2 separate regions of the Homo sapiens genome follow, and region 2 is linked to region 1. The links come from fine-mapping of genetic effects on plasma protein levels. Region 1 holds a variant in brackets. A gene starts in the other region. All regions are shown on their forward strands.

Region 1 (4,393 bases):
AATGTTTTTTCAGGTGGATGAATACATTTCTGATCTGAGAAATCACAAGAAAATCTGACTTTCAAAACAATTCTAACGGACGTTTTCTCTTTAAAACAGACAGAACGGAATACTAGGAAACTTGAAAGAAGACACACTCAACAGTCTCCAAAACCATGGTCCTAATCCCAAAAGATCACTGAGCATCTCTGAAGCCACTGGGCATATAACACCAAGGCTCCACGGCTGTGAGAGTTCAGCCTCTACTTTCCCAAGCTCTTATCTTTACAAACCACCATGTAATGCTCACAACTGACATCTCCCCAGCAGTACGCCTGTCTGGAAGCCCACACATCCAAGATCGTTACCAACTGCAACTTAAATGGTCTTACCAACTCCTGTTTCCTCAACTTCATCCACATCTATGACCTGAGGGTGCTGCTGGTGAAAAGTCTCCACTGCCAACTGGAAAGACCTGGTTCTCTCTGTGGGAGGTCCAAGGGGCCTTTCGGTAGCTGCCCGGCGCGGGGAGAGGACGCTGGGCACACTGTATGTGTCAGCACCTCCCCTTCTCAGAGCCTTGTAGGAGAAGGGCGTGGTGCCCACATCCTCCAGGCCCAGACGAGTGGTCGCCAGGTCATAATCTTCATCCTCATCATCATACTCTGCCCCATCTTCAGTTCCGAGGATCACGTCTGCAGGCACCACGCCATTGGTGGTGGCTGGACTCCCAATCTCAAACACCCAGACACCCTGCTGCCCAGAGTTACTACTCCTAGGAGGAAGGACAGGCTTCTTAGAAACAGGCCAGCAACCCACCAACAGCCACCACTACCCAAGCAGAGGGAGCCCTGAGGATCTGTGTTGGTCTGCAAGCCATCACCTGCAGCTAGGACTGGAGAGTGGAAGGGCACTGGCCGTCATGTCTGGGCGTCATGTGGCTGAGGCAGTCTAGGGCTGTCTGGTGAGACTGTGTCCAAATGGGCACAATACTAGCACAAGCTCAGTCCCAGCCATTCCAGAAGTGTGCTCCAGGGACACTATCAGGACTTAAAATTCAACTTGCTCATCCTAATTGCTGGTTACATGCTCTACCTTATGAGCTAAGGTGGCTCATAGGACTGACAGTGGCTTTAGGACTGAAGTCATTCATGCTCTCCACTATCTCTTTCCATGACATGGTATGATACAATTGAAAATACATGTTTGGTCTCTGTCCTCACATTCTGAAACAAGAGCTCCTACAGCCTTTGGAATTTCTGAAGTGATAAGAGTGTCTTTTGTAGGCTAATGAGTTGACTGATGGCTGGGAGCTCCTAGACAGTTTCAGGATGGGGGCTGGTGGCCAGAAAGACCAAGGCATGATTAGAAGGTTGGAATGTCCAGCTTTCCCCACTGCCTCCAGGGAGGGGAGATGGGCTGGAGATTGAGTCAATCACCAAGGATCAGTGATTTAATCAACTGTGCCTATGAAATAACACCACCATAAAAACCCTAAAATGATGGGGTTCAGAGAGCTTCTGGGTTGAACACATCAAGGTGCGGGAAGGCTGGTGTACTCAGAGACGGCATAGAAACCCTGCCCCCTTACCCATACCTTGTCCTATGCCTCTCTTCCATTTGGTTGTTCCAGAGTTGTATCCTTTAGAATGAACTGGTAATAGTGAAGCATTTTTCTGTGTTATGTGAGCCATTCTAGCAAATTATCAAATCTGAGGAGCATGCCATGGAAACCCTCCATTTATAGCTGGTTGGTCAGAAGTACAGGTGGAAACACAGGACTTGGGACTGGCATCTGAAGTGGGGGCAGTCCTGTGGGACTGAGCCCTTAACCTGTGGGGTCTGCAGTAACGCCAGTGCTAGAATTGAACTGAAGTGTAGGACACCCGGCTGGTGTGCAGAGAATTGGTTGGTGTGGGAAAAAAAA[C/A]CCCACCCATTTGGTGTCAGAAGTGTGAGTGAAAACATTGCAGACGTGGTTTTTTAGAAATCCCAACTCCAGGGCCGGGCGCGGTGGCTCACACCTGTAATCCCAGCACTTTGGGGGGCTGAGGAGGGCAGATCATGAGGTCAGGAGATCGAGACCATCCTGGCTAACATGGTGAAACCCCGTCTCTACTAAAAATACAAAAAATTAGCTGGGCGTGGTGGTGGGCGCCTGTAGTCCCAGCTGCTCGGGACGCTGAAGCAGGAGAATGGCGTGAACCCGGGAGGCAGAGCTTGCAGTGAGCCAAGATCGTGCCACTGCACTCCAGCCTGGGCGACAGAGCAAGACTCCATCTCAAAACAACAACAAAAACAACAAAAAAAGAAATCCCAACTCCATTGGCTGTGAGATCTTGGACTAGTCTCAGTTTACCTTTGGTGCTTAAAGGATATGGTGAAAAGCAAATGAGATACAAAATCCAAAAGCATTTTATAACTATAAAATATAGTAGAATATCCCTAATCTCTACTTCTTCCTCCACCATTTTTACCATTCTTCTGTGTCTGTGATTGGAAGTGCTCCTATCAGAAATTACATGAAATAATTATATTATACGGTGGACAGAGGGGACATACATTACTCAGTGGAAAATACTGAGCAAAACAATGGGGTGGGGTGGGGATGATAAATCACAAAAGTCCTGCATAAATAGGATGTCTAATCAATTTGTCTGCCTGGGATTCAAGTAAAGACAGTGGTGTGTGGGAGCTTATATGGACTAGCTTGTGAGAGCTGGCTGTTAAAGTTTTAGGAATTTTGCAAGCCAGTTATTAAACACAGCCATTCTAAACAATTAAATTACATGAACTTCCAATTAAACAAGTTATATTTTTTAAAAGGAAAAAATATTCAAAACTCATCATATTCTAATCCTTTTGCTACTGTCCATGCTCTTGAAATTATATATATTAAACCTATTTTATCTTTATGGTGAGAATATATATAATGGTGCATGTTTTCTGAACTCTTCAATGAGTGACATGACGTTAATAACTTGAACTTGGCCATCGTAGGAGTATTTACATCACAGAAACAGGCAAACGCTATAAATCAGGTTCCTCTGCCCTCATAAAACCAGTTGTTAAGCATTTACCAGCACATCACTAAGTGAAGGGCAGAGGAATTCAAGCTAGATTTGAAGATATAAAATTAAAAGGTGGTTTTAGGGGATTCACTCTTGGTTTTTAAAGAATAATGGGAGAGGAAAGGTTTTAATCTTCAAAATCCAATTTGGGCTTTTCCCTCTTTTGTCAAATTCTACAACATAACCTGAGAGCACCATTTCTGTTGTAAGAATATTCCCCCTAGTCAATGTGAAGGAAAAGGTTTTCTCAGCCTTGAGATCAAAGGAGATAGGTTTGAATAACCCTTATTTCTAACAGTGTTTATAGACAAAATGGTAAAAACTGTCTTAAGGCCGGGCGCGGCACTTCATGCCTGTAATCCCAGCACTTTGGGAGGCTGAGGTGGGCAGATCACCCGAGGGCAGGAGTTCAAGACCAGCCTGGCCAACATGGTGAAACCCCGTCTCTACTAAAAATACAAGAATTAGCTGGGCATGGTGGCACACACCTGTAATCCCAGCTACTTGGGAAGCTGAGGCGAGAGAATCACTTGAACCTGGGAGGCAGAGGTTGCAGTGAGTCGAGATTGTGCCATTGCACTCCAGCCTTCCAGCTTGGGCAACAGAGTAAGGCTCTGTCTCAAAAAAAAAAAAAAAAAAAAAAAAAAGAACTATTTTAAATGAGGATGATATCTAAAAAATAGGATATCTGTTCATTCTAAAAATACATTTCCTTAAGTTCATCAGAAAAAGAGTATCTCATAATATAAAAACTATATGCAAAACTTAAATCCATAGGAACATTTTTAGGTAATGATCTATAATACACATTACATTATCCACATTAAAAAATATTAAGAGGAGAATCTACTGAAGAACAAAGAAAGCATACTTGGCCAAATTTTCAACTGATTCCCTGTCATTAGCAAATATGTTATAAGCTCCGTTGCTCTTCCATAAGAATCCCACTGAACCTTGACTGAATGCAACCACGGCAGGAACTTGGTTGTTTTCCTTCTTTGAGAATGTCGTATGGAACTGCAGACCATCCTCAGGATAAAGGAAAATGGCATAGGAGCTGGAATCAGAGGAGGCTAGAACAGCCTGGAACGTGTTTCTCTGTGAAGATGAGTTAAAATTCAGTTACTCGGAAAAATATCGATAGATTTTAAAATGTGTTATTCGCCAGACTATCTATAAAGCGTACAGTGCTATAGAGCGATGGCAATATTCTCACCTTATTCTAAAAGAAGGACTTTTGTAGCAAGAACCTAGGATTCTGGGATAGTTCCACTGAAATATCCCTAAGGCTATGTCAACATGACATTTTCTGATTAATTCATAAATATCTTCTGCATAACTGTGGC
Region 2 (4,393 bases), not on the chromosome of region 1:
AAAAGGGCAATCTCTCCTGTCTTCACTCTACGTTCTCTGGGCCACTTTATCTATCAATCTAGCTATTATCTATCTAGTTAATTTCCTGTTATTTTATCTTCTCCCCTTTCATTTCTAGAATAAGAAACTTCTGATGCCCTTCAAGGGAAAAGCCCAAACCACTAATTGGCAAATCTAGAATTTAATCCTTAGGAGGTTGTTACTAATATTATTAATTGTCAAAGCCAAAACCAACACAAAATAGTAATGGTAAAAATGAGTAAAACTCTTTATACTTTTCTAAGAGTTAAAAGAGCTATTCATGTTTCCCATGTATCATTTTATCTTTCACTGAGAGGAAGGAGTTTAGGATAAATCACAAGAACTTGACAATGAGAATTTATTGTACTCCTGTGCCCCGGCTTGTCCTATAGAGCTCAGAAGAACAGAAAATAAAGCCTTTAACTGGTAACACAGAAAACAATTGATAGAATAATATTTGGGGGGGGGGAAGAGAGTGTATATTGGGGGTGCAATTGAAAACTGTTAACAGAAAGCTGGCTGCGATGGCTGACACCCGTAATTCCAGCATTTTGGGAGGCCGAGGCAGGTGGATCACCTGAGGTCAGGAGTTCGAGACCAACCTGGCTAACATGGTGAAACCCCATCTCTACTAAAAATACAAAAATTAGCAGGGTGTGGTGGCGGGTGCCTGTAATCCCAGCTGCTTGGGAGGTTGAGGCAGGAGGATCGTTTGAACCCGGGAGGCAGAGGTTGTAGTGAACCAAGATCGTGCCACTGCACTCCAACCTGGGCGACAGAGCAAGACTCCATCTCAAAAAAATAAAAATAAAAATAAAATCTATTTAGAGATATTCTTTTACGATAAGAATATAGTCAAGTATTATCTGTGTAATTCAAAAATAACCTACATTGAAAAACCAACTACGTTAGCCCTTTATGAAAGAAAAAATGCTGTAGTGAAGTGGCATGACCTGGCTTTCTGAAATATGAGAAAACATGGTTTAAGCAAACCGCACATCATAGAGTTGCTCCTTTCAAAACAAGTCGGCCTGGCCCTGAAGCCCCAGCACTTTTACTGACCTCCTTCCTAATGCTGACTACAAACTCCTTTCCCCTCAGTCCTGTGTGGGAGGCTGCAGCCTACATTTTACATTTCTAAGGTCATCCCTTGTCCTTTGGAAGGACTCTCCCGAAGCTGAGCGAATAGCCAGGGCTCCCTCCTCCTGCTACTGGGATGCAGCCTCTTCCTTCCTCAGCCTGACCACAGCAATGGCCGACTGGCCCTGAAATGCTCTTGGCAAGAGCAGCAGCTCAGTAGCTCATGAATGCACTGGTTTTTATAGTATTTTCTGGTTTAAGGACGAGAGAACTTGTTTGAAAAAAAAAAAGTCTGTTATTAAGAAAATCCTAAAGGATCCCAGCTAGTTGCTTGATACGCCATCTCCTTTAATATAGTCTCATTAACTGGACCAACAGTATGCACAATGCTCTTGACTGGACATACTTAACTTTCCCAACATACATATCACACCTACGCAAAAGAAAAGCAGGCAAAGAGGATCGTAAGTGGAAGATGTCTTAAGAGAAGTGACTTAGGAGCCCCTGAGGTCTTGCTACAAAGGGAGACAGAATGACAGACCGCAGTAGGAGAAATGTCTGTTACCTGTCCAGCACTGTGGTCCCCCGGCTGGCTCCCGCTCTGATCAGATGCCTAAAAGCTTCCCAGTTTCCACTATGGGGCCATTTGTCCTGGGCCTCCTGGGCAGGGGCTCTCACGCCCAGTGGAGGGAGAACCAAGCAAGACTCATTTCGCGTTTTCAGGCAGGACTGGCAGCACCGCTCCCACGCTCAGCCTCCCCCAGCTATGATCCTCCCAGTCTCACAGAGTCATCCCTGAGAGCCGCGCTGCTGTTTTAAAAACAAAAAGTGATTTCCTGGTCCTCTTCCCCGGATGGCGTGTGCGATTTCCCTCACGCCCATGGGAAGTCCTTCAGATCCTTCTTATCTGGAAACCTCTCCACCAAGTGGACAGACTTGTTTGGCCAATGCCCCTAGTTCTCACTTTTCTTTCTCCAAAGAAAAAAATCAGAAAAGCAAAACCAGAGCAAACCAAACATAGGTTAGAGCTAATGAGAAGTACAGGATGTCTGGTTTCAACTTTTAAAAGATGACCACTAAATTAGATTGTAACTTCAGAGAGGAAGGAAAATTAAGACTATCGATGAATTCTTTGTCTTTAGCAGTGCCAAGAAAGCAGAGAAAAAAAGAATCCGCAGAAGAGAAGAGACCTAGAGAAGTTGCTTAGTCCTCCCCCGCGGGAGGGCTGTACCTCAAAAATGCCATATTGGAGGGACGTCCAGTTCTCCTAGGTTTCCAGGGAAACTCTGTGAGTATTTGTGTATCAAACTATAAATTTAGTGGTACTTAAAATACCGCTCAATAGCATGGATATTTAAAGATAAGGAGATATATGGTAAAGGCCTGGTTGGCAGGCTGCATCCAGGTTGCTGGGTTTAAAGATGAATTATAGTCAGCTCATTTTTGAACTGGAAGTGACCTCACTGATCCTCATTTTACAAAAGAGGAAACTGAGGCCCAAGGAGAACCCTTCCCAAGGTCAGAACACGGATGGGGAATGCTGTTTGACTCTCTACTCTGGAGCTCTGCCCACAGAAAGTTTGATGAATGAGGCCTGGCTTGGAATCGGCATTGGAAATAAGTGCTTCGGGTGAGTCCCATGCAGGTAGTCCCAAGAGTATCTTCAGGGAATTCCTCATAGTGTCAAAGAAAGGACTCTGGAGTCAGACTGTAGGAACTGATGCTTTAGTCCCACCAATTATATGTGGCCGGGTACACATTACTTGACCCTATTGAGATTCAGTGTTGTTTTGTTTTTAGACGGAGTCTCGCTCTGTCTCCCAGGCTAGAGTCCAGTGGCGCGATCTTGGCTCACTGCAACCTCTGCCTCCTGGGTTCAAGCGATTCTCCTGCCTCAGCTTTCCCAGTAGCTGGGACTGTAGGTGCCTACCAGCACATCTGGCTAATTTTTGTATTTTTAATAGAGACAGGGTCTCTCCATGTTGGCCAGGCTGGTCTCAAACTCCTGACCTCAGGTAATCCCCAGCCTCGGCCTCCCAAAGTGCTGGGATTACAGGCGTGAGCCACTGCTCCTGGCCCTGAGATTCAGTTTTATTGTGTGTGAAAGTGGGATAATAATAGTACTGAGTTTATAGACTCTGCTGAAACTGAAGAGGAAGAGTTTAGTAACTGTTTGTTGTTCTCTGGAGCCCTGGGCTCCAATGCCTCCAAGTTCATCCTCTCTCCCCTCCAGCTGCCTTCCCTTCTTGTCATGCTATCAGCCTGTAGCAAGTCAGCAACCACCAGCAGGACTTAGGCTTGAGACCAGAGTATTTGGGCAAGAAGAGGATGAACTCCAAAATGTTATTATTCCACTTCTAGATAATGATTCTCAACTGTAGTCTACACGTTAGATTGGATACACCCTAACTTAAAAAGAGCCTGCTGAGGGATGCAGTTCCTGGGCAAATGCTGCCTTTTTTCCTGCTCGTATTTTGGTTGTTGGGTGCAGCAGGCTGTCTAACATGGAATGGGCGTTGTCAAAGTGGCTGTCCCTTTCCTTCCCTGAGGAGCAATTCTTCTCGCCCACAGTTCCCTGCTTGTTGTTAGGAACACTATGTGCTTGCTGCACACACATTACAATGAAAACAAAAGCAAATAAAAAATGCAACCACCATATGGCCTCAGCGGCAACCCAGAATGAACTGTGGATGGAGAGACCCTGCCCTGTCGTAGCTACGGCTGGAATTGACTGTCACAGCAGCCGTTTTCTTGAATTCTAAAACGTTGGTGTTGGTGGCTGAACCCAAATTTCTTGAACCCAACTGCAAACGTAGAGAGAATAATTTACCAGTCATGTTATCACTTTGTTAATATGAAATGTCTCTCATGGCTGTAAGGTACAGTCTCATTAGAGACAAAGCTCCTACTTTCTCAGGAAGAAATTTCAGCACCAAATAAATACATATTTTCCAGCATGTTCCCAGCTGTTTCACTTCTGCCCTTCTTTCACTCTGCCCTTCTCCTTTCTTCACACAGGTAACGTTTAGTCTCTTTTTAAGTTCCAGGTGTTATTTCTTCCAAGGACCCTCCTATTTCTCCCAGCCTGAGCCAAGTATTTCTTCTCCCTGATCCCACACTGCCAGATGCATGTCTTTTTGAAGTTACCACACTGCATTCAAACAATCCATCTAATGCATTGACTGTAAGCACCTTGAAGGCAGGCACTAGTCTTATTTATGTTATGCCCAGCTCGTATTACAGTGCTGGTATATAATGGGTTATCAATAAAAGCAAGCAAAATTAAACTCTG

Direction of the effects. Alleles are on the strand shown, and positions count from the first base shown. The strength of an association depends on the size of the effect and on how common the allele is.
For the plasma level of the protein whose gene starts at base 1,892 in region 2, allele C in region 1 goes with a lower level than allele A (weak association).

Evidence for each region. PIP is the chance, under the fine-mapping model, that this variant and not a neighbour inherited with it causes the effect. The UK Biobank Pharma Proteomics Project read protein levels with antibody pairs (Olink). The fine-mapping took linkage between variants from a reference panel, not from the people measured, so its PIPs are less certain.
Region 2: ADGRF5 starts here. The variant in region 1 is fine-mapped to the plasma level of the ADGRF5 protein (UK Biobank, PIP 0.99).

The regions. Positions count from the first base shown.
Region 1 is chr1:236,041,539-236,045,931 of GRCh38, forward strand. It overlaps NID1 (nidogen 1), which reads right to left. Exons shown (of 20, transcript NM_002508.3): 3 at 3,919-4,145; 4 at 372-754. Among named protein-coding and RNA genes, the nearest start is that of NID1, 21 kb to the right of the region's middle. The variant C/A (reference allele first, on the strand shown) is at 1,907.
Region 2 is chr6:46,920,047-46,924,439 of GRCh38, forward strand. It overlaps ADGRF5 (adhesion G protein-coupled receptor F5), which reads right to left and starts at 1,892. Exons shown (of 21, transcript NM_001098518.2): 1 at 1,667-1,892. It overlaps LOC105375080 (a long non-coding RNA gene), which reads left to right and starts at 2,033. Exons shown (of 3, transcript XR_001744147.2): 1 at 2,033-2,389.